Linked DNA regions of Homo sapiens: region 2 is linked to region 1. A link means that fine-mapping ties the variant in region 1 to the expression of a gene that starts in the linked region. Tissue or cell type: whole blood. Region 1 holds a variant in brackets; the other region holds the start of a gene. All regions are shown on one strand. Distances are between the middles of the regions.

The links. PIP is the estimated chance that this variant, and not a neighbour inherited with it, causes the effect.
Region 2: it holds the start of TIGIT, and the variant in region 1 is fine-mapped to the expression of TIGIT in whole blood (TOPMed, PIP above 0.99).

What each region holds. Positions count from the first base shown.
Region 1 is chr3:114,372,131-114,374,889 of GRCh38, forward strand. The region is part of intron 10 of ZBTB20 (zinc finger and BTB domain containing 20); the gene reads right to left. The region is part of intron 6 of ZBTB20-AS1 (ZBTB20 antisense RNA 1); the gene reads left to right. Among named protein-coding and RNA genes, the nearest start is that of ZBTB20-AS1, 22 kb to the left of the region's middle. The variant C/T (reference allele first, on the strand shown) is at 1,380.
Region 2 is chr3:114,292,466-114,294,965 of GRCh38, forward strand. It overlaps TIGIT (T cell immunoreceptor with Ig and ITIM domains), which reads left to right and starts at 1,563. Exons shown (of 4, transcript NM_173799.4): 1 at 1,563-1,657. The coding sequence starts at 1,597.

The DNA of each region.
Region 1 (2,759 bases):
ATGTGAGAAGTCTTGACAGATATGGAGAAGCACTAATTTTATATAATGAAATCTGCCATGAACAGAGGAAGCACACATGAAACTGTCACTAGCAGCTGTAGATAAGAATTAAAGATGTATTCCTGCATGGGATGAGATGGCAAGATGAAGAACAGAACCGTGAAAATCAGCATTGGGCCCTAACAATTACATGTGGATAATCATATCTATGCACTGTTTGGGAGAGCAATATGACACAGTGTAACTTGAGCCAATGGGCATTGAGACCAGACTTGCCAAGGGACCTGGGAGGATTTTATAAGAGGACAGACTGTTAGAGTCGGGAAGGGCCACAAATCCATGACAAAGTTCCAGCATGACACCTGTAGGTGACTCTGGCTCCATGAATGAACTTTTCTCAACAATTAGTTATTCTGAGCCAGGTGTGGTGGCTCATGCCTGTAATCCCAGCACTTTGGGAGGCCGAGGCAGACGGATTGCTTGAGCTCAGGATTCGAGACCAGCCTGGGCAACATGATCAAATCTCACCTCTAAAATACAAACAAACAAAAAACCCCCCAAAAAACTAGCTGGCTGTGGTGGCACAAGTCTATGTTCCCAGCTACTCAGGAGGCTGGGTGGGAGGATTGCTTGAGCCCAGGAGGCAGAGGTGGCAGTGAGCTGAGATTGCACTGCTGTACTCCAGCCTGGGCAACAGAGCCAGACCCTGTTTAAACAAAAAAGAAAAATAAAAAGAAAATTTATTTTGTGATTTACTGATCAAAATCATCACTAGGTCCTTCAGAATACTTTCTTTTTTTTTCCTGAGATGCAGTCTTGCTCTGTCACTAGGCTAGAGTGCAGTGGTGCAATCTCGGCTCACTGCAACCTCCGCCTCCTGGGTTCAAGCGATTCTCCTACCTCAGCCTCCCAAGTAGCTGGGACTAGAGGCACGTGCCACCATGCCCAGCTAATTTTTCTATTTTTAGTAGAGACAGGGTTTCACCATTTGGCCAGGATGGTCTCGATCTCTTGACCTCATGATCTGGCCGCCTTGGTCTCCCAAAGTGCGGGGATTACAGGCGTGAGCCACTGCGCCTTGCCCCCTCAGAATACTTTCTTACTTTGACTGGCTGTGTGGAAGGAAGGGTTCTTTTGCCTATTAGAAAATAAGTAGATGTCTTGCTTTATTATATATTTGGAAAGCAAATGTCTCTGAAATGGATATAGGATTCAGCTCAGCTGAATTATAACAATAGACAATGTTACCCAAATACAAATCTTCCCATGATTAAAATGAGGCAAAGTATAAGAAGGCCTCAGTGTCATAACTGAACTGTTCTGTTTTCTGAAAACTCTGCGCTCTGTTTGTGCCTCTATGGTTTTGCTTCTTTCTATTC[C/T]TTCTGCCTGGAATGCCATTACTTCTGCCTTCTACTTTACAAATGCCCACTCCTTTATGATCCAGTTTAATTTCATTTTTGGTGTGGAGCTCTTTCCACTTCAAGAGGCTCTTTCCTCGGGGGCTCTGTAGCATTTTGTGCATACTGGAACACTTTAATTCTGCATTTATATTTACCCCGTTATGTTCCAAAGTGTGGGGATGGGGTCTTATTCCTATCTTCGTCCCTAATCTTAGCTGAGGACTTGGTGCAGAATGAGGGATCTGATAACATTTGATCAATGACTGAATTAATGACTAAATGAATGAATGAATAAGAACGACTACCAGAAATTACTGCATTAAGTGACTATGGAAGAAACCCAGTTAAATTGGTGTTGTAGGGAAATAATAAGTTTTATAAAAAGAGGGCCAATTTAAAAAATAGAGGTAGATTAAGATACAAAGTTTCAAGACCTGTGCTTTTTTAAAATAAGTGTGTCCCCAAATGCACAAAGTGGAAACTCTAGGAAATTAGAGCAAATAAAAAAAACGAACTGGCCTTCCAATGTATAAGTGCTGGACTAAGCACTAAAATCTCTAAATAAAGGGTATAAAAGGTAACGAAAAAATTCCAAAGAGATTATATATCAATTAACTAAGAGGCAGAAAGGTGACTTTTTAAAACGGGAAAGACTATCTTTAATGACAGGAAATCCACATTTAACAGATGAGGGGCTTACTTGGCAATGAAATGACAGAAAAACAGTTTAAATGAAAAGATAAATATATAATTCCTTACAGAACATAGAATAAAGCAGAATGCAGAACACTGGGGGCAACGAGAGCACTTAGTTGTACCAAAGACACTCTATTACTGCTTAACTGATACGGAATTTATTAGAAAATTAATAACAAGCCATTGGATAGTAACTGTCTGTGGTTGTTATTCCATTCCATTTTGGCTATATTTTCTCTGCAAATTAGTGTGACCCTAAAATGTTTTCAGGATTGTCCAACTTGTCCTAAATTCCATAAATAAACTCTTTCAGAGGATGCTGTTTTTTGCCATGTCTCTATTACGGTTCTTCACAGATGGACCATTTTTGTCCTTCCAAAGTCTAAGAATAACTCTTTCAGTTATCAAGACATACCAAAATCCAGTTCAGCTGCTCCTGTGGGATTCCAGTTAGTTTAGACACATCTGCTGAGATACATGCATTTGAATCCAAATGAAGCTTTTGTTTGATTATACATTTTGAACATTTATGGAGGTTTTCTGGGGCCAAAATGTTTTTCATTTTTTGGCACACCAAACAGAGATCTTCAGTTATAAACACTGCCTTCTGAGCACCTCCAACAGAAATCCAATCTTTTCATGTGAACAGGTGCCTCAGGAAGT
Region 2 (2,500 bases), 80 kb before region 1:
CCCACCCAGCTCAACTATGGAAACACAGGCTGTAAATTTTTATAGCCCAAATCCTAGTGTCCACCACTTTCTGTGCTCTAGTCCCACTAGCTGCTCTTGGCCCTGCCACTCCTGGCTCCCCGGCCTTAGTGAGTTTGGGAAACATCCCTCCAGTTCAACCTTGGCACCTTCCCTTGGACACACATTAGGTATTATTTCTCCTTCAGCTGAAGGCTTTGTAGCTATTGAAAGGCAAGGCATCTCTTGATGTGAGCCTTGAAGGACAGGTTGCTTTGGGTAGGCAGAGAGAAGCTGGTAAGGCGTATATTGTCTAAGGGTCTGGAGGTGGGGTATAAGGGGTATACAAGTCATAGAGTTGGGGATAGGCAGAACCCAGAGAGGGGAGAAAACTGGCCTGAGATAGAAGACCTTGCAAGGGAGAAGGAGGGTAGGAGCCTGGATGGTGTGAAATGCTAGAGGTGCATGGCTGGAATGGAGGGGGTGGGGCACCAGGCTTCAGATGCTTCTGGGTGCAGATGCAGATTTTCAGGATGTACAACATGGAGCATCCCCAAGGCAACTGTGTTGAGAGCCTGCGAGGCAGGTGAATGTGGATCTTCTACCCCCTCTCCTGACTGAGTTCACCAAGGAACAAGCTTTGTAAACTATTTGAGGGTAGGGGCTGTGATTATTTACTCTCATATCCTCAGAGCCTGGTGTTGAGGTTGGTGCTTTGTAGGCACCCAGGGACTTTCAAATGAATGAAGGGAGGGAGGGAGGAAAGAAGGATGGGTCCATAGTAGGACCTGGTGATGGGCTGGGAGCTCCAGGCAAATGTCAACCAATCCCTCTCCTGGGTCAGCTCCCAGGGGCTCACCCTTCTTTGCATTTCCAGCTCTCATGAGGTCATTGTGCACAGGAAAGCTCTCTCCTCTAATCTCCTCTGATCCTACTGCACCAGAGAAATCAAGCCAGAATTCAATAAAGTCTCAGTCCAGATAAACAAGACAAAAGAAATAAGATTCGAGTAGAAGATCTCCTTCAAGGGAAAGTTGCTGTGTTTGTCCAAGACCTTTGTCCCATCCATGTATCATCCCCCAAGTAAACACTTCTTGTTCACCTGTTCATTAGATTTCAAGTGCAGTCCCTGGCCTGTAAGTCCCTACAATGATAAGCTTCTCTTATCATTGCACATTCTTCATCAGGAGGATGCCAGAGGAGCTCAGCCAACAGTTCCTCATCAGTAGCAGATTCTTCAGAATCTTGGGCACTACACAGATGCCCTTGAGCTCTTTGAATAAAGGCTGATTTTTAGAAAAAACATTAAGACAGAACTTAAAAACAATAGATTGACTATAATCCAAAGACGAGTGTACCTCTAACCACAATTTTCATTTATTTTTAAATGTTTCCTTCATGGCCTTTCTTGTGGCTCACCCTATGCAGTTTGTGTATTTGTTGACAACTTTATGTGTTTTTAATATGGTTTTTGCCAAACTTGGTTTTTCCGAGACCGTCTTTTCTCAGAGGCTCAGTTTTACCGTCCTATCTGCAGTCGGCTACTTTCAGTGGCAGAAGAGGCCACATCTGCTTCCTGTAGGCCCTCTGGGCAGAAGCATGCGCTGGTGTCTCCTCCTGATCTGGGCCCAGGGGCTGAGGCAGGCTCCCCTCGCCTCAGGTAAGGCCTGAAACCCAGCAGAGCAGCAGGGAGGAAAAACAAGGCTAAGCTTGGTTGGAGACTTGGGTGCTTGTGTAGGGAAGACTCCAAGAGCATGCCACAGCTGCTTGAGAGAAAGAAATTGCAACTTTTAGAGTCCTGTGTACTCTTATTTAAGAAAGGACAATCTCTGAGAATGAGGTGGGGTTCTGTTTTTGGTGGCAGATGAAGGACTTTGCAGACTTCCGGGGTTGGAGGAGCCTGACTGGCCAGCACAAGAAGGAGCAGGAGAAGAAGAAGGGCTGGGCAGGAGGCATTGCCAGTTTGCTTTTAGAAGCTCATTCCTGCTCCAGCTTCTTTTCTGTTGCCTTTCAGGAACTTTCCAGGAAAACATTATAAGTTCTCTGTGAATTGAAAATGTCTTTTTCACAGATTCCAGAGGTTCTACCACTAGAGACTGATTTTTTGTTAAATTTATTTCTTCTATATTAAAAATCAGAGTCAAATATTTCTGAGGGAGGGGAACACAAATATTTAAAAACTGTGGTATAAATTAGTTTTTATGTTGCCTTCTGAACTATCTGAGGATGGAGATGTGCCCAGGGTTGCTGGGGAGAGGTTAAGTGCTGAGAGGGTGGTTATGCCTGGGAGAAGCAGGGTTTCCTGCTAAGCTTCCTTTGCTATTGGATTTCTTGGCTTTCCTGAAGGTTTTTTCAGGCACTGCAAATGACAATCAACCAAACAGCAAGGTTTTATTTCAAAGGATAATGCATCCAGCATAGAACTAGGCCGCAGGAAGAAACATAAAAACAAAACAAAATAAAAACAGAAGAGGTGGTATCAGCTGACAAGGGCTTATATTCT